Regions from separate parts of the Homo sapiens genome. Here region 2 is linked to region 1. The links come from fine-mapping of genetic effects on gene expression. A gene starts in region 1. The other region holds a variant in brackets. All regions are shown on one strand. Distances are between the middles of the regions.

What was found. PIP is the estimated chance that this variant, and not a neighbour inherited with it, causes the effect.
Region 2: its variant is fine-mapped to the expression of ABRAXAS1 in whole blood (TOPMed, PIP above 0.99). The same link has a PIP of 0.9 or more in blood mononuclear cells.

Annotation. Positions count from the first base shown.
Region 1 is chr4:83,481,051-83,497,748 of GRCh38, reverse strand. ABRAXAS1 (abraxas 1, BRCA1 A complex subunit) reads left to right here and starts at 12,649. Exons shown (of 9, transcript NM_139076.3): 1 at 12,649-12,763; 2 at 15,505-15,595. The coding sequence starts at 12,677. RefSeq lists a silencer at 12,434-12,923.
Region 2 is chr4:83,435,931-83,452,628 of GRCh38, reverse strand. It overlaps HELQ (helicase, POLQ like), which reads left to right. Exons shown (of 18, transcript NM_133636.5): 3 at 3,668-3,846; 4 at 5,594-5,794; 5 at 6,543-6,615; 6 at 9,015-9,112; 7 at 11,226-11,324; 8 at 12,621-12,766; 9 at 15,532-15,771. Among named protein-coding and RNA genes, the nearest start is that of HELQ, 12 kb to the left of the region's middle. The variant T/A (reference allele first, on the strand shown) is at 6,023.

The DNA.
Region 1 (16,698 bases):
CTTGAAGGAGGCACGTGAAGCCTATCTGACTGCCCTATTTGAAGTTACTAACTAGTATGTGATCCTAGTATAATAATTATGAAAAAAGACATCCAGCCATTCCCTAGTATATATACAAAAAGAGCTTAAAATCCACTGTGATCAGGTGCATCTCATTCTCAAACAAAACAAAACATGTTTGTCTTCCCTGTTATTATTTATTCTGACCATTAGATATTTGGTGGGGGCAGGGAGAGAAGTTAAAAGGTATCTAAATATATTATTGTTACATTAGACTGGGTGGCTTAAAAAACAGAAATGTACTTTCTCACAGTTCTGGAAGCTCTAAGTTCAAAATCAATATGTCACCAGGCTTGGTTCTACGAATAAGACCTCAAAAGCACAGACAACAGAAGCAAAAATAAACAAATGGGATTATATCAAACTAAAAATCTTCTGCACGGCAGAGGAAACAATCAAGAGAGTGAAAAGACAACCTACAGGATCAGAGAAAATATTTTCAGACTACTCATCCCACAGGGGATTAATATCCAGAAGATACAAAGAGTTCAAACATCTCAATAGCAAAAAACAAAACAAGAAAACGTCTGATTATAAAGTAGGCAAATGATCTTAACAGAAAGTTAAATACCGCATATTCTCACTCACATGTGGAAGCTAAAAAAAGTTGATCTAATAGAAGTAAAATGTGGAACCAGAGGATATTAGAGACTGGGAAGGGGAGGATAGGTAGAGATTTGCTAAAGAATACAAAATTACAGCTAGATAGGAGGATAAGTTCTAGTGCTCTGCAGCATTGCAGGTTGCTTATAATTAACAATAATGCGTTGTATAGTTTCAAATAGCTAGAAGAGAGGATATTGAATGTTGCTCTGTGTGTGTGTGTTTGTGTGGGTGTGTGTGTGTGTTTTAAGATGGAGTTTTGCTCTGTCACTTAGGCTGGAGGGCAGTGGTGCAATCTTGGCTTACTGCAACCTCCACATCCCCGGTTCAAGCAATTTTAGTGCCTCAGCCTCCCAAGTAGCTGGGATTACAGGTGTGCACCACCATGCCCAGCTAATTTTTGTATTTTCAGTAGAGATGGGGTTTCACCATGTTGTCCAGGCTGGTCTCAAACTCCTGACCTCAGGTGATCCCCCAGCCTCCGCCTCCCAAAGTACTGGGATTACAGGCGTGAGCCACTACGCCTGGCAGGATATTTGCTAGAGCAGGAGCACCGTCATCTCGGACAAACACCACCACTTTAAGTTCCAGCTCCCTTTCTAGCCTCATGCATTTCAAGGAAATCACTTCTCTTCTAACTACAAGCAGCCAGAAAGAGCAGACAGTAAAACACAGATAAGACCGCTTGGAAACAGAGGGAGGTGAGGAGAAAGTCTCTTGGGTAACTGCCAAACTTCACCCTCATACAATGGGCCCCAGTAAGACAGTGGGCCTTAATAAGCACTTTTCTTTCCCTTCAGGAATACTAAGATAGAGAAGCTAAAAGCAGACTTGGGGGATATGCCTGCAGCTGCAAAAAGGTGTATGGGAATAGAAACGCAACTGTCCCTCCCAGATAAGCACAACAAAGAGACACAGAAGCAGTCCAAGCCTCTTATAAACTCTCCTATCCTGAATCTTTAGAAACTCTTAGTCTGTTAGAGAGTGTGGCTCTGACCTAACTCAGCCAACCGCCCTTCTCAGGTTTATTTAAAATAAACCTGCCCCTGTTGACTGAAAAGCCATCCTTTGTGTTTCTCTCCTCTTTCTTTAATTCTTACAATATTAAATGTTGTCAACACAAAGAAATGATAAATCTTTGAAATTACCAATATGCTAATTACCCTGATCTGATCACTATGCATTGTTTGTATTAAAACATTATGTAGGGCCGAGCGCCGTGGCTCACTCCTGTAATCCCAGCACTTTTAGAGGTTAGGCGGGCAGATCACGAGGTCAGGAGATTGAGACCATCCTGGCCAACACAGTGAAATACCGTCTCTACTAAAAATACGAAAAATTAGCCGGGCGCGATGGCGGGCCCCTGTAGTCCCAGCTACTCGGAAGTCTGAGGCAGGAGAATGGCGTGAACCCGGGAGGTGGAGCTTGCAGTGAGCCAAGATTGCATCACTGCACTCCGGCCTGGGCAAAAGAGCGAGACTCCGTCCCCCCCAAAAAAAAAAAACATTACGTAGCCCATGAATGTATACAATTATTATTTTTTAAAAAACGAAAAAAACATGTAATATTGACAGCAACTAATTAGATGAGTTTTGTAGCATTTTTAGCTTCTATCCATTCAGTATTCTTTTTTTTAGACAGAGTCTGGCTCTGTCACCCAGTCTGGAGTGCAGTGGAGCGATCTTGGCTCACAGCAACCTCTGCCTCCTGGGTTCAAGCAATTCTCCCGCCTCAGCCTCCCTAGTAGCTGGGATTACAGGAGTGTGCCACCATACCAGGCTAATTTTCGTATTTTTAATAGAGATGGGGTTTCACTGTGTTGACCAGGCTGGTCTCGAACTCCTGACCTCAACTGATCTTCCCACCTCGGCCTCCCAAAGTGCTGGGATTACAGGCGTGAGCCACCACATCCAGCCCATTCAGTATCTTTTTATAATTAAATTTAATTTTTTTAAGTATGTTTTTTATATATATGTTTATACATATTATATATGTGTTTATATATTTTATATATGTTTATATATAAAACATAAATATATATTTATATATAAAAATATAAAAACTATATATAAAATATATATAAACATATAATGTATAAACATGTTTATATATTTTTTAAATATTTATATATAATTTATATATATTTATATATAAATATACTTATAAAAATTATATATAATTTATACATATTTATATATAAATATACTTATAAAAATTATATATAATTTTTAAAAATATATATATAAATATATTTATAAAAATTATATATAATTTTTAAAAATATTTATATATAAACATATATATCAACATATATAAAAAATATATATAAACATGTTTATATATATATATACATGTTTATATATATATATATATATATATATATATATATATATATATATTTTTTTTTTTTTTAGACAGAGTCTCACTCCGTTGCCCAGGCTGGAATGCAGTGGTGCAATCTCAGCTCACTGCAACCTCTGCCTCCCAGGCTTAAGCGATTCTCGTGCCTCAGCCTCTGGAGTAGCTGGGATTACAGGCGCCTGACACCATGCCTGGCTAATTTTTGTATTTTTAATAGAGATGGGGTTTCACCATGTTAGTGAGGCTGGTCTCCAACTCCTGGCCTCGGCCTCCCAAAGTGCTAGGATTACAGGCCTGGGCCACCGGCCATTTCCACAATGTTGTTTTTTTTTTTTTTTTTTGAGATTGAGTCTTGCTCTGTCGCCCAGGCTGGAGTGCAGTGGCGTGATCTCAGCTCGCTGCGACCTCCACCTCCTGGGTTCAAGCAATTCTCTTGCCTCAGCCTCCTGAGTAGCTGGGACTACAGGTGCATGCCACCACACCCAGGTAATTTTTTGTATTTTTAGTAGAGACAGGGTTTCACCATGTTAGCCAGGATGGTCTCAGTCTCCTGACCTTGTGATCCGCCCACCTCGGCCTCCCAAAGTGCTGGGATTACAGGCGTGAGCCACCACGCATGGCCTTTTTTTTCTTTCTTTCTTTCTTTCTTTCTTTCTTTCTTTCTTTCTTTCTTTCTTTTCTTTTTTTTTTCTTTTTTTTTTTGAGACACAGTCTTGCTCTGTCTCCCAGGCTAGAGGGCAGTGGCACGATCTCGGCTCACTGCAACCTCTGCTTCCTGGGTTCAAGTGACTCTCCTGCCTCAGCCTCCCAAGTAGCTGGGATTACAGATGCCTGCCACCACTCTCGGCTAATTTTTTGTATTTTTAGTAGAGACAGGGTTTTGCCACATTGGCCAGGCTAGTATCAAACTCCTGACCTCAGGTGATCCACTCGCCTTGGCCTCCCAAAGGGCTGAGATTACAGGTGTGAGCCACCGCACCTGGCTGTTTCCACTCTTTTAAGATAAATTCTGGGCCCGGCGTGTTGGCTTACACCTGTAATCCCAACATTTTGGGAGGCTAAGGTGGGACGATTGCTGGAGCCCAGGAGTTGGAGATCAGCCTGGGAAACATGGCGAAATCCTATTGCTACAAAAATTAGCCTGGTGTGGTGTTGCATGCTTGTAGTCCCAACTGCTCAGGAGGCTGAAGGGGCAGAAACACCTGAACCCAGGGAGGTTGAGGCTGCAGCGAACCATGATCGTGCCACTGCACCACAGCCTGGACAACAAAGTGAAACCTTGTTTCAAAACCAAAAAGACAAATTCTAAAATCCTATGCTACAACAGCCAGCATGGTCTGGCCCTTCTCACTAGCCAGCTTTTACCTCCTGCCTCCCTCCCTCTCACACTCCAGGTTTTAGAATCTTCTAATTGCCTCAGGGTGTTCACACATGGTGTTCCTTTAACTGAGAACACTCCTCCCCACTTCTTTTCCTTTTCCCAAGTATCCAGGTCCTTGAGAAGACTTTCTCTGATCCCAGCAATAGGGGAGTGGGTATCTCAGTTACCCTTGCTTCTAGTTTTCTATTTTTCCTACTACGTATTTATTAGAATCGTAATTATGTCATCATATGAGAGATGATGTATGTAATTTTCCTTTCCCCCACTGGATTATAAATACTATTAGGGCAGGCACTATCTCTATTTTGTTATTCAATGTACCTCCAGCAACTAGCACAGTGCCTGATGTAAAGCAGGCAGTCAATAGCTGTGAATTCATGACCATAAGGAAAGTGGAAAGCAAGATTTTTGCCCTTTAAGAGATGAGAATTTTCCTAGGGAAAGAAAAAAAAATCCAGGAAACACTTAGCTGTGCCCAACTATGCCCAGCAGTTCAATAATTAAGAACCAAAATGCCAGGTACAGTGGCTCACAACTGTAATACCTAATCTCAACACTTTGGCAGGCCAAGGCGAGAGGATCACTTGAACCCAGGAGACTGAGGCTGTAGTGAGAAGCTGGGCAACAGAGCAAAACCTAGTCTCAAAAAAAAAAAAAAAAAAATGACATGGCCAGGAAAGATATCATAAATCCAGGGTAAGTTTTTTTAATACAGATTAAGGTGATGCCTTTTCCAATGATTAAGTCTCTAAAGATTTAGTCGTCCTTCTCTTCCTGATTCAGAGAGGGAGATACACTTACAAATAGATATTTCCTTTATAGCTTTAAATTTCTCTTACAAAAGGGTAACTTTCCAGAACTGCTCCTATGTCTGTCGTTTCTCAAAATAACCAGCTCAAAATAATTCTTATGACAAAGAGGCATATTTGGGATAGCACATTCTGGATTCTACAGTCCTATTTTGGGGTGGTGTGTCCTGAACCCCATTAATAAGTTTAAATTACAAAAATTAATAATAAAGTATAATATGTATTTTTAAAAGTGAAAATAGATTTTGATTTTTAAATGATTTTCACTCACACCTGTAATCCCTGCAGTTTGGGAGGCCAAGGCAGGAGGATTACCTGAGCTCAGGAGTTCAAGACCAGCCTGGCCAGTATGGCGAAACCCCGTCTCTACTAAAAATACAAAAATTAGCTGGGAATGGTGCTCACCTGTAGTCTCTGCTACTTGGGGGCTGAGGCAGGAGAATCGCTTGAACCCGGGAGGTAGAGGCTGGAGTGAGCTGAGATAGTGCCACTGCACTCCAGCCTGGGCAACAGAGTGAGAATCTCTCAAAAAAATAAATAAATATAATGTAATATAATATAATAATCAAAATATACACAAATACCTATATACATTAATACACATATGAATAGATAAAAACCTGAAAGAATATAAGCCAAACCATTCACTGTAATATCTTTGGATGGAAGGATTATGGGAACTTTCTCTTATTTCATTATATAAATATATAACATACTTTTTGTCTGTTTGTGACAGCACGTTGCTCTGTTGCCCAGACTAAAGTGCAGTTGTGCCATCATAACTCACTGTAACATTAAATTCCTGGGCTCAATTAATCCTCCCACCTCAGCCACTCTAGTAGTTGGGATTACAGGTGTGAGCCACCTCACCCAGAGGCAGGTGCTTTTTTTGTTTAACCCAAGCCAGTCACTTATTCATTATTTAAACTAGCGTAAATTATTCACTGAAGCTATAGAAATTAATTTTCTACCAGAAACAACCTTATACCTAGAGTTGTCCATACAAGCTCAGATCAAACTAATGCCTCTTGGAATTTTCTATCTGAATGCCTTCTCAGGATTAGCTGAACTGACACTGCTGAAACTTTTACTTTGGTCTTGGAATTTATCCTAAGGAGGACTCTGTTGGAATTCAAATTAGCTTCTTAACCCTGTCTGCAATAATTCTTAAAGCATCAGTCAGCACTACTATTTCTGCAGTTACTTTATCTCCTTTGCCAGAGTTCTATTGTTTTTATATTTGTGGATGTGCAAGGGTATTTTTTTAAAAAAAAAACAATGATTCTTATCCAAGATACAGCATTTAAGTCATTTTTACTAAATCACCATGGATTTTCAAAGTAGCCTATTTTAACACATTATAACAGATTAAGCCCTATTAACTATTTTTACATAATAATAATCTCTGAACCCCAATCAAAGGCCTTTTCCTTCAGAACTACTATCACAGTGTCCCCTGCAGGTCACCAGGTAGAGGTGCATCCTGAGGGGGCATATTTCTTAACGGTGTTTGTGTAATTTTCCTTATGCCTCTTTAACAGATGGAATGAAATAATAACAAGTTGGAATGTTATCACATTAATACATCTTCAAATTTCCCTGGAACCTCAGATAAATTTATTTCTGTGTCTATAATCTTAGAGTTATATCAAGTTTTATCAGAGATTTTTAAAACTCTCATTACGTTTTTAATACACAAAAATATTACAAAGAAAACAAAATGTGTTTATAATAGTATTTCCCAGATAACATAGCCTTAACAAATAATACTTATCTAGGTGCAGTGGCTCACTCCTGTAATCCTAGCCTTTTGAGAGACTGAGGCGGGAGGATTGCTTGAGCTCGAGAGTTCGAGACCAGCCTGGGCCACATAGTGAGACCTCCCCATCTCAACAAACCATCAAAAAATTAGCCAGGGATGGTGGCATGTACCTGTAATCCCAGCTACTCAAGAGGCTGAGGTGGGAGAATCGCTTGACCCTGGGAGGTGGAGGCTGCAGTAAGCCATGATCACACAGCTGTACTCCAGCCTGGGCAACAGGATTGAGATCCTGTCTAAAAAAAAAAAAAAAAAAAAAAAAAAAAAAAAAAAAAAAAAAAAAAATTAAAATAATACTTGTTCACCATTAGAAATAAATCATGTCTATAATTAAAAAATGAAATTCATCATATTATATTTTGAGTATGTTTGTATTTGAAGTTTTTTTTAATTGGCAGATATTTGAAAATGTGATCTTTATGGCTCTGAAAGCCCTTTATAGGTGATATGGAAAAGCAAGCACTTTGTTTCACTTTTGATGCTCTGAAAAGCAGACACAAAGACAGGAGTCCATGTGCAAGAGAGAGACCTATTGGGGAAATGTCTGTGAAAGATAAAGGGAAGAGAGCAGGAGTAAGCAAGGAGAGGCTGCAGAAAACCATGCTTATCTGACACCTGGGAAAGGAGGAAGGGAAGGATAGGAGTCTCAGACTTCAGTGCAAGCTAACATAATCTTAGCCAGGCTGATGGAGAGTCCTTGAGCCAAAGTCCCATTACAGGAATCCTGCATCTTATAAGAATGGGCCTGTGTTAATACCCCACCATGGTCACTGATGCTGTGGCAGGGAAGGTTAGAGGGCAGCAATGCTCACAGGAGCTGAAGTGGGAGGCTTTCTGCCAACCGTGGCTCCCCCAGCAGGTTCAACCAGAGTGGAGCATGTCCATGGCCATCACATTCTCCATTCATTTTGAATAAATAGTATAATTAATAATATGCTATGAAGATAAGATATATTTCCCTTTATGATACTCATTTATTTGCAAGCATATTTGTTTAAAAGTTGATCTGTTGTGAGTGAAATCATTACTTAAAAATCATATTCTTATCCTTTTCATGCGAAAAAAATCAATATCTAAAAATTCAAATAGAAAAGTAAAAGATACAGTTTTTTCTTGCAATTATTTGAGGTTCCATTAACCCTCCTATTTAAAATAGAATACCAAAAATTTAACAGAGATGAATATTATTGGATCCCAATTTAAGCAAGCAAGCACATCCTTCTGAAGCAATCAACCCTATCATTAACATGATTCTAATACAGCAGCTAAAATGTTTCTCTTATTTTCATAGTTATTCTTCTTTCTAATTTTTTTTTTAAGAGACAAGGTCTCATTCTGTTTCCCAGGCTGAGGTGGCACAATCAAAGCTCACTCCAGCTTCAAGCTCCTGGACTCAAGCAATCCTCCCGCCTCAGCCTCCCCAGTAGCTGGGACTACAGGTGTGCACTACCACACTTGACTGATTTTTTTTTGAAACTGGGTCTGGCCCACGCTGGAGTACAGTGGCATGATCTCAGCTCACTGCAACTTCTGCCTCCTGGGCTCAAGCAATCCTCCCACCTCAGCCTCCTAAACTGCTGGGATTACAGGTGTGAGCCACCGTGCCTGGCCAACTAACTTTTTTAATTTTTTTTTTTTTTTTTGAGACAGAGTCTCACTCTGTTGCCCAGGCTGGAGGGCAGTGGCACAATCTTGCCTCACTGCACCTTTGGCCTCCTGGGTTCAAGCACCTCTGCCTCAGCTTCCCGAGTAGCTGGGATTACAGGCACACGCCACCACACCTCGCTAATTTTGTATTTTTAGTAGAGACAGGGTTTCACCATGTTGGCCAGGCTGGTCTCGAACTCCCGACTTCAGGTGATCCACCTGCCTTGGCCTCTCAAAGTGCTGGGATTACTGGCGTGAGTTGGGATTACAGGCACGAGCCACCACACCTGGACTAATTTTTTGTTTGTTTGTTTTTGTTTTGAGATGGAGTCTTGCTCTGTCACTTAGGCTAGAGTGCAGTGGCGTGATCTCAGCTCACTGCAACCTCCGCCTCCTGGGTTCAAGTGATTCTCCTGCCTCAGCCTCCCAAGTAGCTGGGATTACAGGTGCCCACCACCATGGTCAGCTAATTTTTGTATTTTTAGTAGAGACGGGGTTTCATCATATTGGCAGTCTGGTCTCCAACTCCTGACCTCGTGATCCACCCATCTTGGCCTCCCAAAGTGCTGGGATTACAGGCATGAGCCACCGCACCTGGCCTAATTTTTTAAAGTTTTTGAAGACATAGAGTCTTGCTATGTTGCCCAGGCTGGTCTCAAACTCCTGACCTCAAGCCATACTCTCTGCTCAGACTCCCAAAACACTGGAATTACAAGCATGAGTGACTGTGCCCAATCTTTTTGTTTGTTTGTTTGTTTTTGAAACAGATTCTCACTCTGTTGCCCAGGCTGGAGTGTAGTGGAAGGATCTCGGCTCACTGCAACCTCCACCTCCCAGGTTCAAGTGATTCTCCTGCCTCAGCCTTCCAAGTAGCTGGGATTACAGGCGCACGCCACCAGGCCTGGCTAATTTTTGTATTTTTAGTAGAGATGGGGTTTTGTCATGTTGGTCAGGCTGGTCTCAAACTCGTATTTCAGGTGATCTGCCCACCTCAGCCTCCCAAAGTGCTGGGATTATAGGTATGAGCCACTGTTCCCGGCCAGGTATTTCTTTATAGCAGTGCAAGAAGGGACGAATACACTCTCCCATGAGTCATTCTTTAGCATACAAAAACCAGTAAATTCCTAAGGTTTTAGAAGCTCCCACGCCAGGAACTCAGGACAAAGACTAAATATTTATTTTCTTTTTTACTATACTACAGACAAATCCTTGATCTTTGACCACTGATTCCTTATAGCAAAGAATCATAAGAGTTAAAAGATAGTTGCACATTTCTAAAACCCCATTCAATTACTAATAACCTGTCCAGTCCATCAGCCTATCATATGAAAATGCCAGGCCGGGCGCGGTGGCTCACGCCTGTAATCCCAGCACTTTGGGAGGCCGAGGTGGGTGGATCACAAGGTCAGGGGATCAAGACCATCCTGGCTAACACGGTGAAACCCTGTCTCTACTAAAAATACAAAAAATTAGCCGGGCGTGGTGGCGGACGCCTGTAATCCCAGCTACTCAGGAGGCTGAGGCAGGAGAATGGCGTGAACCCAGGAGGTGGAGCTTCCAGTGAGCCAAGATCATGCCACTGCACTCCTGCCTGGGAGACAGAGCGAGACTCCGTCTCAAAAAAAAAAAAAAAAGAAAAAGAAAAGAAAATGCCTCCCAGGGTGTGGCCACTCAGGCTTCCATTTGATCTTTTCAGGTTTCAAAAGCAGAGTTCTTAGCAATATATATCTTCATTATTTCAGGCATCTGATATAATTAAGATAAGAGACAATATCATCCCTTGCTTTGAGTTTCTTTGGAGGTCTTAATGAATATTGGATTTCCCTCATTATATAACCCGTTTATTTATTCCTTTACTCTCATCTACTATTTCTCCTTATCTCCACTCATACCCAAGCTTTTTTGGCTTCCGAAGGAGTATTTGGTTCAGCTACTGTGCTGCTCTGGGTTGCAGGAAGTAAAACTAGTGATGTGGTTCAGGACACACTACTCCAAAATATAGCACCTGAGCATTTGAGAAAATAGCAGAGCAAAGAGGTCATTTGCACCTTCCCCTCACTCCTTTTGCCCTGAAGCAGGCCATAAACCATAGAAAGAATACTCTGGCCATCTCCCTTGAGGCAGGCCATAAAACCCGGTGTCCTTCCCTGAAGTAGGTCATAAGACCATCATTTGAGAGGTACCCTCCCTTTACATAGAGAAAAGGAATATCCTTACCTCTGAAGACACCAGGACACAGAGAAGAACCTGAACAAACAGCCCATTCTAAGTTCCCCCAGTTTGTTACCATTACATCATACTCCCTTTGTGTAATCATACTCCTGCACGACTGTCCACTCTTTATCAACCCTACGACAATTGTCTTCCACCCCTTCATTGAAATTTCATTATCTACTGACTGTGGAAAGAAGACTGAAAGTCAAACATCAAATCTAGAGCCCAGAGGAACTTTGTACTAAGTTATTGACTGCTGTTTGGGCTCATCCAACTTCCACAAAGAATTCTTTGCAAGCAATCCCTCAAGCTCATCCAAAGAATCAATTGTGATCCTCAAAATTACTTACATTCCTCCATCTCCCTCTCCCTTATGAAAAAGTGTACATAAGCATCTGAACCTCATTGGATTATTGGGTAATCACTCTACTGTGATTTTCTCCAGGGCACATTAATAAATTTGTATGCCAGTCGGGAGCGCCTGTAATCCCAGCACTTTGGGAGGCCGAAGGGGGCAGATCACCCGAGGTCAGGAGTTCGAAACCAGCCTGGCCAACATGGTGAAACCTTGTCTCTAATAAAAATACAAAAAAAATAAATAAATAAGCCGGGCTTGGTGGCACGTGCCTGTAATCCCAGCTACTCAGGAGGCTGAGGCAGAAGAATCGCTTGAACCCGGGAAGTGGAGGCTGCAGTGAGCTGAGATGGTGCCACTGCACTCTGGCCTGGGTGACCAAGCGAGACTCAGTCTCAAAAAAATAAAAAATAAAATAAATTCGTATCCCTTTTCCTTCTGTTCATCTTTTCTTTTGTTAGTTCACTCCAGTGAACCTTCAGAGGGCAGAGCTTTCCCTTCACCCCTACAAAATGAAGGCAAGAAACTTAATTCTAGGGAATAAATATATAATCATTAATTATATACATATGTATTGTGTGTTACGCAGCCACAGACAACTGCTTGACAACAAAACCCACAAATGTGCCACACTAATTCAGTAGTCTGCTATTATGCTTACTTTCAGTCATTTAAGAAACATACCTTTACGTGTGTGTGTGTGTGTGTGTGTGTGTAAAATACATTTGCCAAGCCCTGGTCCACTCACCTTACCATTTACATTAAATGAACCAGCTTACTATGATTATGCCTATCATTAAACTGTCAGAACATTAAATATCCATGTATTGTTTAAATTAGGCTGAAGTTTTCTAAAAGCAAGGGAACACACACATGCACACACACAAACACACAGACACAGAACATGGCTAGAGAGTTCTAGCAAAGACAATCCCCAAATGGTTATTAGTATTCTGTAAGTTTCAGTGAGTGAAGGGTGCTAAAATGCAGCTTGAAAACCAAAACCGTGGCATATCCACTGTGGCATCGTAATGTTGCTACTCAACTCTTTTATTCTTGTAATCATTGCTTGTCTTAAAATGACCCTGTCAACCGTGTTCATTTTGATAGCTTTGCATGTTTGTGACAGGTCGCTCAGCAGGCGCAGGCCACCAAAAGCAATTCGCAGCCCTCTGCAGTGGTACCGACATGCAGCGGCCTTCCGGGAGAGGCCGGCAGCAGAAGCGAAGGAGGAGCCGAGCGCGCGGCTGGGGACCCGCCCGCGCCCGCCCTCAGCCCCCTCGCCCCGCCCCTCTGCGGAGCGCGCAGCAGCCCGTGCGCCGGCGCAGGCCCCGCCTCCTCGCTGGGCCCCGCCTCGCTGCCACCACAGGGTCTTGCCTCCGCGCGCCCCGCCCTCGTCCTCTTGTGTAGCCTGAGGCGGCGGTAGCATGGAGGGGGAGAGTACGTCGGCGGTGCTCTCGGGCTTTGTGCTCGGCGCACTCGCTTTCCAGCACCTCAACACGGACTCGGACACGGTGAGCCGAGGGACGGGGCGGGGTCCGGCGTCGCCTGGGAAGAGCCCTGCGCGCGGCCTGCCTCCCCGCTGTTGCTCCGGTCCCCGCCCGCTCCCCCGACGCCGCCGCGCCTCCTCCCTGCGGTCGCGGCTCTGCCTTCTCTCCCCCTCAGCGGTCCCTGAGGTGCCTCGTGCCCACGAAGTCTTCTCCAGCATTAGCCCTCCCTCTGCTATCCTCCGTTATTTCCCTTTTCCGACCCAAGTGTCCCACACGCTCCCATCTTTCCTCGGCGCCCCTGTAGCTGTGGAAACTTGGGCGTGAAAAGATGGAAAGTTCACGGAGCGTCTTTCCGCTGCTCTGCGGAGCCTGCGGTAAACTTTCCGTTTCTCGCGACGCCCGACAGGCGTTTGCAAAACCAGGCGGACTTTTTCATGCAGAGCAGCGTCTGTGCGTGTTTGTTGCGATGGTAGGATGGTAAGGGAATAAAAATAGATGTTGCGTCCAGTGGCAAATCTTAGTGGATGGAACAGCTTAATCTGGTATATCAGATATCTTTTTATTTGCGTTATTAAATTTGTTAAAACAGTTTTTAAAAGTACGTTGCCTATTTTCTAAAAGTTCTATGAAATTAAAGAAACGCTGTAAAACGTTGAGCTCGGAAGTAGTTAATGTCCTGTAGCACTTTCAGTAACTTGCAGAAAGAAAGTCTAAGCATCTGAAATACACTTCCCTGCTGTGTGGTACAGTTCGGAGAATACCCTGCTGAACAATGCCTAGTAATTTCTGCTAAGTTCATTTTAAGATATAACGTCTATTTTACTCAAAATTGCCTTAATATAGGTCGGGCGCGGTGGCTCACGCCTGTAATTCCAGCCCTTTGGGAAGCCGAGGCGGGTGAATCACCTGAGCCCACGAGTTCGAGACCATCGGGGACAACGTAGTGAGACCCGGTCTCTACAAAATCTAAACATTACAAAATTGCTCTTTGGCACAATCCTAATAAAGGTTGGAATTGGTATGTTTTATGTATACAATTTCAGATAACCTTACAAAGTAATACCTAATAAAGAACAAATATATGACCATTTAAAATATATGTGTAGCTGTGGAAATTATTTTGGAATACCTGTAGTGTAGATAGAGTGGGACCGTAAATCCTCGGTAGCTTAAACGATTAGCCCTTGGGAAGTACCTGAGTGCTAGGGAGGCCCCTGTTTCTCAGATCTTTTTCCTGAAGTCTTTAAAGGGTGGTTTTTCTGGCTAGTTGCACTTGCATTGCCCCCCTGCTTCCCTTCCCTGAGTTCGTCTTTTGAGTATCAAAATCAAGAACACTAGATTCTGGATATCCCCCCGCGTGATTCCAGTAAAGACTCACATTATGGAAATAATCCTTTTTTACTTTTAGGGGAAAAAAGCATTATTAATTATAAAGAATATAAAATATTTCTGTAATCACAGCACTTTGGGACGCGGAGGCAGGAGGATCATTTGAGCCCAGGAGTTCAAGACCAGCGTGGGCAACATAAGGAGACCTCATGTCTACAAAAAAATTTTAAAAATTAGCCCGGCGTGGTGGCACGTGCCTGTAGACCCAGCTACTTGGAAGGCTGAGGCAGCAGGATTGTTTGAGCCTGGGAGGTCAAAGCTGCAGTGAGTAGTGATTGCACCGCTGCACTCCAGCCTGGGTGATGACAGAGCTAGACCTCTTCTCAAAAAAAAAAAAAAAAAAGATATAAAATCTTCATTGTCAAGCACATTGGGTCTTTAAGTGTGCCTAGAGAAATTGAATTCCCCAAAACTCAGATAAATTACCACTGGGGTGGCAGAATACAAGTAGTTTTAAAAGAATCGGGCTCACAGCACTCCTTTTAGAAAGCAGACTCTGAAATTGAATTTAAATCTTTCATATTGTGCATGAGTTTTAATCAGAAAACACTAATCTTGTCATTTCGTACCTTAGAAGCTTTCTGTAACTCCCAGAAGCACATGTGGTTAAATCCAGAGTAGTCATTCGGGGTGTCCCATTATTGGCTCGTTCTTATTTATCTTTGATTTCCTTCTGCTCCAAGGCAAAGTGCTCTGCTCATTCTTCAGTGTGTGCTCATTTCTGGCTTTAAGTCTTATATGCTTCCAAGTGTGCCCAGTGCTTCATGCTCTGCCTACACAAATATTGCCCATAGCTTTAGTCTAATCTGTAGCCTCCCCAGGGCTACAGGGCTAATCTGTAGCCTCCCCAGGGCTACTCTGATTATTTCAGGCTAGACTAATCTCTTTCCCTTCCTCTCCTCTTTATTTCTACTTTTTTTCTTTTGAGGCAGAGTCTCACTCTATCGCCTGGGCTGGAGTGCAGTGGCGTGATCATAGCTCACTGCAGCCTCAACCTCCTGGGTTCACGTCATCCCAAGTAGCTGGGACTACAGGCATGTGCCACCATGCCTAACTAATGTTTCTCGTATTTTTTGTACAGACGGAGTTTTACCCTGTTGCCCAGGCTAGTCTTTAACTCCTGGGTTCAAACTATCTGCCCACCTTGGCCTCCCAGTGCTAGGATTACAGGCGTGAGCCATCTTGCCTAGCCTCTTCTCATTTTTATTTAACTCTTCATCTTTCCCAAGTAAACTAGAAGCATCTCAGATCTTTCATATGTGCCCCCGACTGGTAGCACATATTGTATACATAGTAAAATACTCAGGAAATACGGTTAGTTAAGTGAACAGTAATTCTATCAGTGTATTCTATATATTGCCTCTTTATCTTCATAGGAAGGTTTTCTTCTTGGGGAAGTAAAAGGTGAAGCCAAGAACAGCATTACTGATTCCCAAATGGATGATGTTGAAGTTGTTTATACAATTGGTGAGTTATTTATTTCTCCTATATTTGAATCATCTGTGTCTCCTATATTTGATAGTTTATGCTGAAAGGGGTCAGCGTAAATTATTATTTTTAAATTAGGAAATACAGAGGCTGGGCAAGGTGGCTCACACCTGTAATCCCAGCACTTTGGGAGGCCGAGGCGGATTACCTGAGGTTGGGAGTTTGAGACCAGCCTGGCCAACATGGTGAAACCCATCTCTACTAAAAATACAAAAATTAGCCAGGTGTAGTGGTGCATGTCTGTAATCCCAGTTACTTGGGAGGCTGAGGCACGAGAATTGCTTGAACCTGAGAGGCAGAAGTTGCAGTGAGCCGAGACTGTGCCACTGCACTACAGCCTGGGCAACAAAGCGAGACTCTGTCTCAAAAAAAGAAAAATAAGAAATATATATTAATTTTAAAATAATTTAAAAGGATATGTTGTACTCATTTTGCAGTTAAAATTATGACCATGGACTGGTCTAAAGTAAGAAATAGTATGAGACTTAGGAAGCAGATAAGATTACTGCCAGGGAAACAAGGATGAAACACCTGCTGTTTAGTAGGAAGATGGCCCGGCAATAGGAAGACCAAGGAAAAAGATAAAATGTTAAATGCTGCAGAAAAGTTGGAAGATGAGAACTGAGAAAATGCAGTAATTAGATTATTAGATGACTGAAAATCCTCAGTAATTTCTGGAGCGTAATGGGGAAGAGACCAGGCTGTAAAGGGTTTGAGGAGTGGGTGCTAAAGCAGTTATAACTGGTGGCAGCTTCTCTTTTAGGGAAAAGCAGGGGAGAACCTTTAAAATGCATAGGGAAAAAAATGGTTAAAAGAAATAAAATGTATAGGGAGTTTTCTGATTGTCTAATATAGTTTTTCTCTATATATGTGTATGTATTTTTAAACAAAATTGGTAGTGTACTTTATAAAAGGTTTGGCATCATATTGTGTCATGATCACTTTACAATGTTGCATAATCCTCTACAATATTATTTTTCATTTCTTTTCTTTTTTTTTTTGAGGCAGAGTCTCACTCTGTTGCCCAGGCTGGAGTGCAGTGGCGCAATCCCGGCTCACTGCAACCTCCGCCTCCCAGGTTC
Region 2 (16,698 bases), 45 kb after region 1:
TTCTTAGTTGTATTTCCTTGGCTGGCTCTGTCTTCTCTACCAAAACCTAGCTGTTGTGGTATGTCTTTGACACTCACATGTCTTGAGTGAAAGAAGTCAGTTATTAGTAATACTGTTGATTAAACCAAACATCTTTCCCCCCACACCAGCAGCCGCAGCTACCTCTCCCCACGGGTGCATCCCTGCCACCACCCAGATGCTCTGCCTTGTGCTGCCTTTCCCAAAGCTAGACATCTTTAAAGACAGCTGCAATTAAGTTTTAAGTCAGGGATGTCCAATCTTTTGGCTTCCTTGGGCCACTTTGGAAAAAGTATTGTCTTGAGCCACAATAAAATACAGTAACACGATAGCTGATGAGCCAAGAAAAAAAATTGCAAAAAAAAAAATCTCATAATGTTTTAAGAAAGTTTACAAATTTGTGTTGGGCCACATTCAAAGCCATTCTGGGCCTCATGAGGGCCGTGGGTTGGACAAACTTGTTTTAAGTGCAAAGAAGCAATAATATTAAGAAGGTATCTTGTAATGTTTTTCAAAAATCCAGGGTCCTTGCATATATTTCAGATATGTGTCATTTTAGACCAAGAAGGGACAGTTGCTGCCATACTGGAGGGTCAGCCCCATCAACCTTCCACTTCGTAAGTTTTCTGGAACTCCTGTTAGGATCTTATGAATGATATGAAAACTTGGGTTCTTGCAGAGAAGACAATCAGGTTGGAGAAGCAGAACTACAGGAAACAAAGTCTAATAAAAGACTCTACAAGAATCCAAATTGTGAGGTTCATGACTTAAGAGCTAATGGTGTGTGTTGCCCTGGAAGTAGACGTTAACTTTCTTCCCTCTGTTCTTCCCTCTGTTTTTCTGCTAGCACCTTGCTTTTTGTTTAGTCTGCCAGAATGAATATCCTGAGGACAAGGCTCTATCTAACTCATCTTTTTGTTTTTGTTTTTGTTTTTTTGTTTTTTTTTGAGACGGAGTCTCGCGTGTTGCCCAGGCTGGAGTGCAGTGGCGCATCTCAGCTCACTGCAAGCTCCGCCTCCTGGGTTCGCGCCATTTTCCTGCATCAGACTCCCCAGTAGCTGGGACTACAGGCGCCCGCCACCACGCCCGGCTAATTTTTTTTTTGTATTTTTAGTAGAGACAAGGTTTCACCGTGTTAGCCAGGATGGTCTCGATCTCCTGACCTTGTGATCCGCCTGCCTCAGCCTCCCAAAGTGCTGGGATTACAGGCGTGAGCCACCGAGCCCGGCCTAACTCATCTTTTTCTTAACTAGCACTGTGCCTGGTATACTCTGGTAGGTTCTCAACTGCTGGGGATTGTCACTTAAAAATGCAACCTTAGCACTTTGGGCCTAGTTCCTCATCTATAAAAAGGGATAATTTTTTTTTGCAAGTTAGAGTCTGTGTTAAGGACATGCCAAATTAGATGTTGGTAATGATTGTCAGTAATTACATTGGTAGCTTCTAAGTAAGAACTTCAGTAAATAACAACTTTTTAAATCTTTTTACCTCTAAATCTGGCTTAATAACATGACCAGATTAAAGCATAAATGCATGTGCTACTTTTTATTAAGCTAAAGCGGTGGTTCTCAAGTGTGGTTCCTGGACTGCAGCATCAACATCACCTGGAAATTTGTTGAAGTGCATGTTCTCAGACACTTCCCTAGACCTACTGCGTCAGAACCTCTAGGAATACGACCTGGCAATCTGTGATCGTGGCTCACTACAGCGTCAACCTCCCAGGCTCAAGCAATCCTCCCACTTCAGCCTCCCAAGTCGTGGGGACTATAGGCATGCGCCACCATACCCAGCTAATTTTTTTATATTTTGTAGAGATAGGGTCTCATTTTGTTGCCTAGGCTGGTCCTGAACTCCTGGGCTTAAGCAGTCCTGCTGTCTCAGCCTCCCAAAGGGTTGGAATTACAGATATGAGCCATTGTACCCGGCTAGTTTTTTTTTTTTTTTTTGATGTGAAGATTGTATTCATAAATATTAGTTATTTTGTCATGTTATGCTTAAAAATCTGAATTGGATAAAATGTGGCTATGGTTAAGTTATACTTTGGCATAAACATCTAATTTGATAACTCGGGTGATACCAATCTGAAGTATTTTTCAATATTTATTGAATATTAAATTTAAGTATTTTTGAAATATTTTTAAAGAAAATATTCACAGTCACTTGTAGTATTTGGGAATCACCCAAAAGCACAATAAGTTAAAGTTACTTGTAACTGTCATTCAGATATAACTTTCTTTTTTTTTTTTAATAGAGATGGGCTCATCTTGAAATCCTGGTCTCAAGTGATCCTCTTGCCTTAGGCTCCCAAAGTGCTGGGATTACAGACATGATCCACCACTCCGGGGCAATGATCTGCTTTTTTTTTTTTTTTTTTTTTTTTTTTTTTTTAAACTTAACTGTATATTGAACATACATAGATCCATCTATTCTTCATTTTTAAACTGCAAAGAATCTCATTGGTTGATTGTACAATAATTCATTCGGCCTTTACCCCCACCACCATGGCACTTTGTTACCTACAAACAATGCTGTGTTTTATATGCTTTGGCTTCCGTTCTATAGATGTAGAATCCCAAAAGTAATACTACCAGATCAAAGGCAATGTGCAGTTCTATTTTATACTAGGTTACTTTCCACAAGGATTCTAGCAGTTTATGTTCTCACAACCGTACATGAAAATGGCTGTTTTTCCCCACATTAGTCAGCTCTGGATTTTGCATGTGTGGGGCTTTTTTTTTTTTTGATAGTTATTTGTTTTTTATTTTAAAAATTTATTTTGCCAACCCAGTAGAGAACAGCTGAGCATCTTCTCATGTATTTATTGGCCATTTGCATTTCTGCTGCTTATTGGCCATGTATTTATTGGCCATTTGCCGTCTGCTGTGAAATGTCTTAAATTTTTTGCCCATTTTTCTAGTGATAAAACACTGAAGCACATTTTTAAAGACTTCTGATGATTTTTATTGTCAGATTATCCTACAGAGTAATTAATACTAGTTTTCACACGGTATCTTGGATCTGATCTATTTTCATGAATCCCGCCTTGCCAAATTGTGGGAATCCTAGGCGTGTCAGTTAATAATCCTAGTCTTTTGTGGTTTAAAGAGTTTTAACAGTTTAAAATGGTTTTGGACCCATTCGAAGTTCAGGTCTCCATGAGAGCTAGTTAAAGTTTTTATTAGTTTGTGTAAAACCTAATAGATTTGTTTCCCTCCTTCCCCTGCTTCTCTCTGAGATGGCTTTTGGCTGAATGAGGAAGGGAAGCTTATATAATCTCCTTGCAGAACATAAGAGGAAGACATTCGAATTCACACAGGTCCTTGTACTGTCCCTTTGTTCCTCTGATATCTCAGATGGCACTCCTTGTCCACGAGGCTGCTACCTGCCCTGCTGTAATATTGGACCCAAGTCTGCAGCTGGTGAATAAATGGGCTGGTTGCCCACCTTGCTGCCTAGGCCTGAACTAGGCTCTCACTGGCTGTACTACTTGCACATTTGGGATTTTTGACATGTAACATTGGTTATAATTAAATTTATCCTTATGAGAGGATTGCTCCACAGGAAGGGATTTGATTTTTTTTCTTAGAAAACTTTTGAGTTTCAAAGTTTGGAAGGGGAAAATAATGCCTTTTTTTTTTTAATTCCACAGAATGGCAACATACTTGTTTAACATTGAATTCTGTGCAAGAAAGAAAAAATTTAATATATTCCTTGCCAACAAGTGGTGGAAAAACCCTCGTGGCTGAGATTTTAATGCTGCAAGAACTGCTTTGCTGTCGGAAAGATGTTTTAATGATTCTTCCATATGTGGCAATTGTCCAAGAAAAGGTGTGTGTGTGTGTATGTTTTAAAACAAATGTTATTTGCTAGTACTTTGACGTTAAGATCTGTAAATGTGATAACTTTGTATTGTTGAGAAGTACCTCTTTTTTTTTTTTTTTGAGATGGAGTCTTGCTCTGTCACCCAGGTTGGAGTGCAGTGGCACCATCTTGGCTCACTGCAACCTCCGCCTCCCAGGTTCAAGCGATTCTCCTGCCTCAGCCTCCTGAGTAGCTGGGATTACAGGCCCATGCCACCATACCCAGCCAATTTTTGTGTTTTTAGTAGAGGCGGGGTTTCACCATATTGGCCAGGCTGGTCTCAAACTCCTGATCTCCAGTGATCCACCCGCCTCAGCCTCCCAAAGTGCTGGTATTACAGGCATGAGCCACTGCGCCTGGTGAGAAGTACCTCTTAATGATGGAGAATTAATATTTTTAGAATGTATAAAAGCAGTATACACTACCTAAAATATCTTCAAATACTAATTACCAGTTGTTGAAAGTTTTACTTTTTCTAAACTGGTGGATTAAACATCATCTTAAATGTTCTATTACTATTTACCCTGCTTTTTCTTTTTTGAGATGTAGTCTCCCTCTGTCGCCCAGGCTGGAGTGCAGTGGCACAATCTCTGCTCACTGCAACCTCCGCCTCTTGGGTTCAAGTGATTCTCCTGCCTCAGCTTCCCAAGTAGCTAGGATTGCAGGTGTGTGCCACCATGCCTGGCTAATTTTTGTATTTTTAGTAGAGATGGGTTTTCATCATGTTGGACAGGCTGGTCTCGAACTTCTGACCTAAAGTGATCCTCCCACCTCGGCCCCCCAAAGTGCTGGGATTACAGGTGTGAGCCACTGTGCCCGGCCTTACCTTGCTTTTTCAAGCAGAAACTATTACTAAAATGAGTTATTCTGATGCTTTTTTTTTTTTTTTTGAGACAGTCTTGCTCTATCACCCAGGCTGGAGTGCAGTGGCATGATCTCAGCTCACTGCAACCCCCACCTCCCAGACTCAAGTAATTCTCATGCCCCACGACCCCACCCAGCAGCCAGAATCGCAAGCACACGCCACCACGCCCGGCTAATTTTTTTATTTTTGGTAGAGATGATGTCTCGCCATGTTGGCCAGGCTGATCTCAAACGCCTGTCCTCAAGTGATCCACCTGCCTCAGCCTCCTAAAATGCTGAGATTACAGGCATGAGCCAACACACCCCTGATGCTTTTTGGTATCAAAGGCGCCAGTTGAAATTTATTTTCACATGTATTTTAGAAGTTGCATTTATTTTGCAAAGATCGAGACATTACAGCATTTCTTACGTATGTCTTGCCTGTGACCTTGTTCCTGTTGATGGGTATTAAACACTACTTTAGCTTTTTTGAACCCCATGAGCACCTAATGGGGGGTTTTTTACTTGTGTTTTTTGGTTTTGTTTATTTATTTATTTTTGAGTCAGGGTCTTGCTCTGTCGCCCAGGCTGGAGTGCAGTGGCATGACCAAGGCTTACTGCAGCCTCAATTCTCTGGACTCAGGCAGTCCTCCCACCTCAGCTTCCCAAGTAGCTGAGACTACAGGCCTGTGCCACCACAGCCAGCGAATTTTTTATTTTTTATAGAGATGAGGTCTCACTGTGTTGCCCAGGCTGGTCTCACCTTCCTGGGCTCAAGTGATCTTCCCGCCTCAGCCTCCCAAGGTACTGGGATTACAGGCATTGGCCACAATGCCTGGCCAATTTTTCTTTATTTTAACTAATATTCTAGATTTCAGGTTTGTCAAGTTTTGGTATAGAACTCGGTTTCTTTGTTGAAGAATATGCTGGAAGCAAAGGAAGATTTCCTCCAACTAAAAGAAGGGAAAAGAAATCACTCTATATTGCCACTATTGAAAAAGGACATAGCTTGGTGAACTCCTTGATTGAAACTGGAAGAATTGACAGTCTGGGTCTGGTTGTTGTAGACGAGGTTGGTTAATACTTTTGTAATTTGTCAATATTTTTATTATACTAAATATTTATTATTCTGGTTATTGTGTGGATCTACTTAGTACCTTAGTACCTCTATAAAAATAAATTTATTTGAAAATATAGACAATATAGGTGAAGACATTCTATGCTTGATAATCTTAAATTTGGTTTTGTGTCAAGTGTTTCTTGAAGTGTGAACACGTATGTGTGTAGTATACAATTTTAT[T/A]GGCTGGGCGTGGTGGCTCATGCCTGTAATCCTAGCACTTTGGGAGGCCGAGGCAGGTGAATCACTTGATGTTAGGAGTTCAAGACCAGCCTGGCCAACAGGTGAAACCCTGTCTCTACTAAAAATACAAAAATTAGCCGGGCGTGGTGGTGGGCGCCTGTAATCCCAGCCACTCGGGAGGCTGAGGCAGGAGAATCGCTGTAACCCAGGAGGTGGAGGTTGCAGTGAGCTAGGATCACGCCATTGCACTCCAGCCTGGGGGTCAAGAGCCAAACTCCGTTTAAAAAAAAAATTTTTTTAGTAGTACTTATGAATCCCAGATTTATAAGGATTTTGTACCAAAAGCTCATTAACCTAAATACCAGTGAAATAATATACATGTATTATAGTTGTTATATTCAAAATACTTAAAAGTTATAAGCAACTCTTTACAAACAAATTTCATATGAATATATGCATGTTTTATATGAGCACTATATGAAGATTTACTTCTCTGTCCTTTTTAAAAAAAATCTCGAAGTTGCACATGATTGGTGAAGGAAGCCGTGGAGCTACACTGGAAATGACCCTAGCAAAAATCCTCTACACTAGCAGTAAGTATTTTTTCAAATGAGGTCATGAATTGATTTATAATCAAGAGACTTATAAAATACTTAATTCTATCACTAGCTACAGTATGTAACCTAAAGCAAGATACTTAAGCTTTTTGCCTTTGTTTTAAAATTTCTAATGAATAGAATTTTGAAGGTAAATGAAATTGGTATTTGAAGAAGTCCTCTATTATTATCCGCCACTTACTAGCTATGTGTGCCCAGGCACATCCCTCAACCTCTATGTTTCTTTATCTGTAAAACAAGGATAATAATGGTACCAGCCTGATGGGATTGTTGTAAGGATAGTGTGAGTTAACACATGTATTGCATTCAGCAGTGCTTAGCACACTGCATTCAGTAAGGGTTTGCTGCTGCTACTGTGGCCATCATCATCATCACCATAATAATACATATAACATAAATATTATAATAATAATATTGTAAAGCGATACATTTAAATAGGTCAGTTTAAGGAGCTATTTTGCAGCATCAGGTAGTCTTTAAAGTTTATGAAAAATTTATTCTAAATGTCATAACCTACTATTGATATGCTATTGCAATATTTACCTTATATATGGAAAAATTAACTATAAAGGTCAAATCTTAAAAAGTATTTAAAAAATTTCAACAGCAATAATATTTAAGCAGGTTATAGCATTTTATAATTGTTCATTCAAAAAAATATTGATCACCTACTGTGTGCTAGGCACTATTTTAAGTGCTAGGGATACAGCAGTGAATAAAATAGTCCCTGCTTTCATCAAGCCTGTATTTTAGGGCATCCCTATTTGAATATTCTCTGAACAGCTAAGCCTAACTAAGGCTTAGTCTGAGCCAAACTCATTTCCTTCAAAGCCGTTCTTCAGCCTGAATTCTCAGCCACCACTCTCCAGCCAGCCAAGCCAGGGTCCTACATATTCTATCAGCAACCAAATCCTATCTGGTTTACCTCATAAATATATTGTTACTTCTGTCTCTCCTATCCCTCATTACCACTAAGTCTTTAGTTCAGTACCTCATCCTTTCTACCTGGATTGCCACAGAAATCACCAAGTTCTTCTGTGTACCCACTGCCCTTCATCCACCAAATCCATCTTTCTTTAGCGCAAGAAGAATGATCTTTCCCAAATGCAAATCCAATTAGTTTATTTTACTGTTTACCATTCTTTAATAGCTCCCCTTTGCTTTCTGCATAAATCCCTAATTTCTTAGCACAGCCTTTCTTGATTTGACCCCATGCCCACCTCTTCAGCTTTGTAGTCTATCCTTATGGAATGAGAAGGATACTCCCACTTATTCCTCTTTCAGTGAGTTTCTTGAATGATCATTTCAAGACATAGGAGCAATGAAGAAACATTTGCAAAGAAGGCCTATTTGGGTTTTCATTCAATAGTTAAGTCTATAGAAAGCAGCCATTTTGTATTGCCCAGGATGTCATATGGCTTCATAAGCTTCACTCCACCTTTATTTAAAACAACATCAACAAAAACTATAGTCCCAACTACTCGGGAGGTTGGGGCAAGGAGAACTGCTTGAACCCAGGAGGTGGAGGTTGCAGTGAGCCGAGATCATGCCACTGCACTCCAGCCTGGGCAACAGAGCAAGACTCTGTCTCAAAAAAATAAATAAATAAATAAAATTAAAAGTTAGCTTGATAGCAAGATCTCATAGAGGACTTTTCATGGGCCAAGAGTTCGAGACGCATTTAGCCCTCTATCCTACTACCTCTACATCTGTCTATAGCCATACCTGTGGAACATATCATAGCTCTTCGTAAAGGGGATCCAGATAGACAGTTATAAGCAGATTTATACTCATTTATTATTGTTTAGAAGCCTTAATATCCTAGTTCTTGCCAAGTTTGAAACTCTGTAAACTTCTAAGTAGTAACTTTCAGGATACCTGAAAAATTTCATTCTTCAAATGCCAGATTAATACTCTGGTAATATATTTGTAGTTTTCTTTTTTTAAGAGGTCAGGTCTCACTGTTGCCCAAGCTGCAGTGCAGTGACACAATCATGGCTCACTGCAGCCTTGACTTCCTGGGCTCAAGCGATCCTCCCACCTCAGCCTCCTAAGTAGCTGGGACTACAGGCGTGCACTACCATGCCCAGGTAATTTTTAATTTTTTTGTAGAGATGAGGTCTTACTATGTTGCCCAGGCTAGTGTTGAAGTCCTGCCCTCAAGCGATCTTCCCACCTCAGCCTCCGAAAGTGTTGAGATTACAGATGTGAGCCAGGCACCCAGCTATTTGTATTTTTCTTACTTACCTCTCCCACCCCTTTCCCAAATCACTCAGGAAGAATTCAGAGCACAAAAGACTTGCTAAAATTACTTTATGATATATTAAATAACATATTTTCCTTAACACTTTGGCTTTTGTTTGTTTGTGTTTTAGAAACGACTCAAATTATTGGTATGAGTGCAACATTAAACAATGTTGAAGACCTACAAAAGTTTCTTCAAGCAGAATATTATACCAGTCAATTTAGACCAGTATGTACCTAAGGTTTGCACTGTATTGATTTGTTTCGTATTCATCTAACTTAGAAATGAAAGTAGTAAACATAGGATTTAAAGAATTCTGTAGAGTAGTGAAGGGGCATATTTTACTCACCATGACTATATGCTAATAAGAGGTTGTGTATAGAGAATTTAAGAGTTTGTGTATAGGTCAGGGATCTTGGGTTGGGTCACTAATGTATCTATAGCCTGGCCCACAGGCTGTCAATGAACGTTCATTGAATGAGTTTTCCCAAACCCCCATTTTATTTTTTCACTTCTTATTCTGTAAACTAAATTTTTTTATTTGGCAAAATTTTAGTGAGACATGTTTTGAGTTATTGGCACATTAAAAAATATATCTTAAAATTTAAAATATTTTTAAATATTTATATGTTAGTAGTTATAATACTTTTTTAATAAGTTAAGGCTTCACATGGATTTACATATAAACTCCTCAACAGCAGCATTCCCAAAATGCTTGAAGAAAGTAAACAAATGTAATTTGTGGTTATTTGAAAATAGCTTGTAATGTATATATATTTTTGTGTGCACTACTAGTGTGTATGTTTTGTGCCTCAATAGTTTTTCAGTGTCTAAATAGGTTTTCAGAAAATATTTTTTTAATTGCCAAATTTTAATTTGAAATTTGATGTTTTAGCTGGGTGCAGTGGCTCACACCTGCAATGCCAACACTTTAAGAGGCCGGGGCATGAGAATTGCTTGAGTCCAGGAGTTCAAGACCAGCCTGGGCAACATGGCGAGACCCCTGTCTCTACAAAAAATTAAAAAATTAGGGCAGCCAGGCGCGGTGGCTCACACCTGTAATCCCAGCACTTTGGGAGGCCGAGGTGGGCAGATCACGAGGTCAAGAGATCGAGACCATCCTGGCCAACATGGTGAAACCCCGACTCTACTAAAAAATACAAAAATTAGCAGGGCATGGTGACGCACGCCTGTAGTCCCAGCTACTCTGGAGGCTGAGGCAGGAGAATCGCTTGAACCCAGTGGGGCGAAGGTTGCAGCAAGCCGAGATTGCGCCACTGCACTCCAGCCTTGCAAGAGAGAGAAAAAAAAAATTAGAGCATATTAGCACTCACATATAGTCCCAGCTACTTGAGAGGGTGAGATGGGAGGATCACTTAAGCCCAGAAGGTTGAGGATACAGTAAGCTGTGTTTGTGCCGCTACACCCCAGCCTGGACTACAGAGTGAGACCCTGTCTCAAAAAAAAAAAAAAAAAAAAAAAAATTGATGTTTTTACATTTGAACCAGATAGGAACATTTTCAAGAGATATTTTTTAACTTAATTGCCACAGTAGACATTGTTATTGTTATTATAAAATGCAATGAGCTGTGTTTACAAACTGTTTTTGTCGACAAATAAAGAAAAATAGTGTGGTGGTATTTAGAATTAAAACTGATGAATAATAAGACAGAAAGTTTTGGCTGGACACGGTGGCTCATGCATGTAATCCTAGCACTTTGAGAGGCTGTGGCAAGAGGATCGCTTGAGCCCAGGAGTTCAAGACCAGCCTCAGCAACATAGAGGAACCCCATCTCTATAAAAATTAGCCTGGCGTGGTAGCGCATGCCTGTCATCCCAGCTACTCAGGAGGCTGAGGTAGGAGGATAGCATGAGCCCTGGAGGTTGAGGCTGCAGTGGGCTGTGATCATGCTACTGCACTCCAAGCCTGGGTGATAGAGTGAGACCCTGTCTCAAAAAAAAAAAAAAAAAAAAGACAAAGTTTTAGATCTTGAGACATAAAACAGATGATACCTTAGTAAAAGTTAAGAACACCAAGACTCACACTTTTTGTGACAAATACAGAAGTGTGTGGTTTCTTTTTTGGATATGATGTTTACTGAATTCAAACATATTTCTTCAAGGATATTGATCTCTATTTTGATTTTAAGGGAAAAAGAGACCAAAACAGAAGAAGAAGAAATGGTAAAGCAAGAACTTTTAAGTTGAAGCATGTTTTATGTATCTTAGAAAAGCTAAACTCTTTTATAGCTGTCCTTTCTTAACCTATTTTACAATATTTAAAACACTGGAAAGATGAATTTATATGTCGTATTAATTGCAAATGTCCTTTTAATTCAAGGTTGAGTTAAAAGAATATCTGAAAATAAATGATACAATATATGAAGTTGACAGCAAAGCTGAGAATGGCATGACTTTTTCACGTCTTCTTAATTATAAGGTAACATTGATAACATTTAAATTCCAGGTTACCAGACTTTGTGTCTGGGGCACAACAAGAGTTTCCAATGGATTCCGTAGAATAGTCTAGATTTTTCAGAGAAACAGCTGATGCTTGACATTTGTTGGACACCATGCAGACTGCCAGTTCAAGATAGCTCGTTTCCAGTTTCAACATTAGATCACACCATATTCTTTTCTATGACATCATATCTTTGTGAAGTTGGGGTTTTTACAGTTGCTGTAAGCAAGTACCGTGTGAAAATCAATCTGGAACAGAAGAGAATAGCTGTGTCCAGTCTTATTTCAGATTTTGAAAGACAGTACCAAGTTGTGCACACATCCCATTAGTGAGCTGTTGTGGTTATTTAAGAATGAAATAAAAATATTTTTTCACTCAACTGATGTGTATTATTTATTCTAACAGCTACTAAATTGTGAGGAAGTACGTATTTATTAAGTTGTTTGGACCTCACTATTTAATTAACAAAACTGTAAAGTATTTCTTTGGGCCCTGGGGCTGTGAACAAAGAAAATTTGGAAAACTCTCCTGTAAATGTTTATTCATACAACAACAACAACAAAAGAATAATTTATGGACCATGTAGTTCAGATATTGGTGTATAAAATGTTAATGTCTACTATGTAAATTTTAGTGTTTTATGACTTGTATGAAGGATATTAAAAAGGGGAAGAAGGGATTATACAGTAGTTTTAGAATTCTGTGAAGATGTGTTATTCTACAGCTATGTCTTTAGTAAAGTTGAAGAAATAGATTTTAAATAACTTCACATTTTTTCTTCATGTTCTTTGTGTTCCTCATGTGACTACAAAAATTGTCATAATTCAGTAGTATGATTGAATCTGTGTTTTTGAAAACTTAATGGTTGTAAAGGGCATGTCTTATTTACACAGTCCGTTAACTATTATTAGGATCAATCTGTGTTTCTCTCTGTGGACTTTTTTGTTCTGCTGTGGTGGAGATGGGCATGTAGTGAGGCTATTAATAACATTAACTATTTTCACTTCTTTAATTTTCTTTAATTCACTTGTTTAATTCTAGGTTTTTTTTTAGACTAACTAGACCTAAGAAAATCATAATAACCTAAAAGAAAAGTGAGATTGAACATTTTGATGTTTAATATAGATTTCATCTTTTCTTTTAAATGATCAGATTTATTAAATTAGAAGTTTAGAATTATAGATGGTTTATTTACCTTTCAAATCACACTGGTAAAAAATTGACAGGGTTTCATGTTTACTAACCACTTTGTTCCTACATCTTGTTGTTTTGCAGTATTCTGATACCCTAAAAAAGATGGATCCTGATCACTTGGTAGCATTGGTGACAGAAGTTATTCCCAATTATTCCTGCTTAGTTTTTTGTCCTAGTAAGAAGAACTGTGAAAATGTAGCAGAAATGATATGCAAATTTTTAAGCAAGTATGTTAATATTTTTTAAATAGCCTGTTTTATTTTTATTAGGAATTACAGACTATGTATTAATTTTATTGGGCAAACACTAATTATGCCTTGCAAAACATCATATTAAGTTGTTTTAGTATACTGAAGGCCTTGACCTTGAAGAAAGAAATTTTAACTGTGAAAAATCACATGTGAAATAGCCAGAGAAACATTCTAAGGTGGCTGGGCACCATGGCTCATGCCTGTAATCCCAGCACTTTGGGAGGCCGAGGTGGGTGGATCACTTGAGGTCAGGAGTTTGAGACGAGCCTGGCCAACACGGTGAAACCCCATCTCTACTAAAAATACAAAAAATTAGCTGGGTGTGGTGCCTTGCACCTATAATCCCAGCTACTGGGGAGGCTGAGACATGAGAATCTGTTGGACCCGGGAGGCGGAGGTTGCAGTTAGCTGAGATCGCACTACTGCACTCCAGCCTGCGTGACACAGCGAGACTCCATCAAAAAAAAAAAAGAAGACCAGGCACGGTGGCTCATGCCTGTAATCCCAGCACTTTGGGAAGCCAAGGTGTGCGGATCATGAGGTCAGGAGTTCAAGACCAGCCTGGCCAACATAGTGAAATCCTGTCTCTACTGAAAATACCAAATTAGCTGGGTGTGGTGGCGTGCACCTGTAGTCCTAGCTACTCGGGAGGCTAAGGCGGGAGAATCACTTGAACCTGGGAGGCAGAGGTTGCAGTGAGCTGAGACCACACCATTGCACTCCAGCCTGGGTGACAGAGGGAGACTCAGTCTCAAAAAGAAAAGGAAAAAAAAAAGACAAAACCCTAAGACTATATGTATGAGAATGTTAAGTAATATTAGGTCAGTGATTCAAAACCTTGGGTGCATAGTGAATCATCTTGGAGGCTTTTAAAAATTCCAAAGTCCAGGCTACATCTTAGACAAATCAGAATCTCTGGGAGTGACACCCAGATATCATTTTGTAAAGCTCCCCAGGCAAGTCCAACATATAGCCAAGGACAGGAACAACTGGCTTAGTCAGTCAAAGGACTAATCACTGTTACCACTGTGGAAATGAATTGTATCTTCCATTGCCTTTTTTTCTCTTTTCCTTTTTTTTTTTTTTTTTTCCTGAGACAGGGTCTCACTCTGTCACCTATGCTGGAATGCAGTAGCACAAATTCAGCTAGCTCACTGCAGCCTCTGTCTCCTGGGCTCAAGTGATCCTCCTACCTCAGCCTCCCAAGTAGCTGGGACTACAGGCACACACCACCACTCCCAACTAATTTTTTGTAATTTTCATGGAGATAGTATTTCACCATGTTGCCCAGGCTGGTTTCGAACTCCTGAGCTCAAGCAATCCGCCCCCCATAGCCTCCCAAAGTGCTGGAATTACAGGCGTGAGCCACTGCGCCTGGCCTGCCTTTGTTTTCTTAGTAAACTTCACACTTAGTTGTATGGACATTTGGATATAATTTCCTGAGTAAGAAATGTGTTGTCTTATAATTTTGTAGTATCTTAATATTGGCTCTGTCGTATTCATAGAGATAAGTATGAAGTTACTTTAACTACTAACAGTTCAGTTTTTTATACACCTGTTTGTCCCATGTGTGGTTTTATCATTTTCTGAGATTTCTTTCAGCCCCTTAGCTAATGCTGTATCACTATTCATAGTCTATTAACCTGAATGCTAATCTAGTCAACCTCTACCTCCTCTTTCAATCCTACTATCATGGATTGGTCTAAGATAGACTTAAATTTATTGAATAGCAAAATATAAAAATGTTTGGAATAAGATGAAGGAGTTGCTCATTTTGGTAACAGTCTGCTTTTACAATGATTTTGATTATAAAAGCTTAAGGAAATTAAATTATCATTAAAAAAATTCTCAGTAAATCATTCATTTTCTTAGAGTAATTCAAGGTAATAAGATGGAGACACTGGCTAAGTGATGGAAACATTGTAGGATGTGAAGTTTCTAAAGTGCAAGTGTTTAGGCAGTGTTTTACCATGGAAGTATGATTTAATAATATGTATGTTTCCATCTTCAGAAAAGAAAATTTATGTCTTTAAAAAAACTATCCCCTATAAAGATATATGTTATAAAGAAAAAAACAGTTATAACATCCAGAGCAAAGGTCTAAACCTGGTGTCCATGGATTCAAAGGAAGTACAGGAATGAATTTTAGGAAATCCACGAACCCTCTGAAATTATATGTAAAGTGTTGTATTTATGTAAATAGTTATATTTTTCCTTTTTTTTTTTTTTTTTTTTAGACAAGGCTTTGCTCTTTCACCCAGGCTGGTAGGTTCATAGCTCATTGCAACCTCAAACTCCCGGGTTCAAGCAATCATCCCACCTCATCCTCCCCCATAGCCTGGAACTGCAGGTGCATGCACCACCATGCCCGGCTAATTTTTGTTATTTTTTGTAGAGGTGGTCTTGCTTCACTGCCCAAGCTGATCTTGAACTCTTGGGCTCAAGCAATCCTTCTGCCTCTACCTCCCAAAGTGCTGAGATTACAGGCATGAGCCATCGCATTTCGCCTTTCCTTAGTTTTGATAAGATTTTCACAGGGTTCTGTAATCCACAAAAAGATTGAGAGACTGCCTAATAGTTAATGAAGTCAGAATCAAAATTCTAAGAACATTTAATGTACTTAACTCAATGGAAATAGTACATTAAAGAATGTTTACATTAGCATCTACTAAAATGAAAATGGTAGAAATTTTGTCACTAAAAGATCAAGGGCTCATATTTCTAACAGATCTTTTTCATAGGGAATATCTGAAACATAAGGAGAAAGAAAAATGTGAGGTGATTAAGAACTTGAAGAATATTGGCAATGGCAACCTGTGTCCTGTTTTAAAGCGCACTATCCCATTTGGAGTTGCCTATCACCACAGTGGCTTAACAAGTGATGAAAGGAAACTCTTGGAGGAGGCCTACTCCACAGGAGTGCTCTGTCTTTTTACCTGCACATCTACCCTAGCGGCAGGTGTCAACCTACCAGCTCGAAGGTAAGAGATAAGTAAGTGTTGACCAGGCTCAGAACTTTTCCATTTCTAGCTTGCGAGGAGTTTTGTTGTTTTATGCTTTCTCAGTAGTGGATGAGAATTTATCAAATGTTCTTTTAGCATATGCTGAGTTGATTGGTTGGTTTATTTTCTTTAATATTTTAATGAATATGTAATGAAATATGTAATGAAAAATAACGTTAATAGATTTCTTGATATTAGAATTCCATCCTTTCTGCTCTTTATATCTGGTTTTGATGTTAGGGTCTATTAATCTGGTTTTGTAGAAATAGTTGGCAAGTGTTTTACCTTTTTTATGATATGAAAGAGTTTATTTAACATAGAGATTTCCTTGAAATCTTGGAGAGCTGATCCATAGGCAATTTGTGTCTAATATATGTATTTTAAAGCAGGCCCTTGATTACCTTTCCAGTTATTACCAAAGGTGTAGGCCTGTGTAATTGACTTCTCCCCTTTATAATTTATGATCATGGGGTATTTTGCTAATAAATGATCAATTTTTATAAACTTTCCATGAGTGTTTAAAAAAATATGTATTTTCAGTTGAATATGCAGTTTTGTACATCTCAGCGAGATCACAGAGGTTCATTGTGTTATCGGCTTCTCTATTTTCTTACTATATTTGATTCCTTGGTCTATCAATTTCAGAGAAGTGTGTTAGTCTCCCACTTTAATTATGTAGTTATCAGTTTCTCCTTTTTGCATCTCTAGAAGTTATTACTTTTTATATTTCAAAACTATTTAGATATACAAAGGTTTACTTCAAATATCTTATTGCCGAATTATACCTTTTATCAATACAATAAATACTTGTTTTTCTCATTTAATAATTTTGCTTTGAATACCAGGACTCATTTTTTTTTTTTGCCACGTATGTACCTTTTTCCATTCTTTTATTTTCAATTTCTG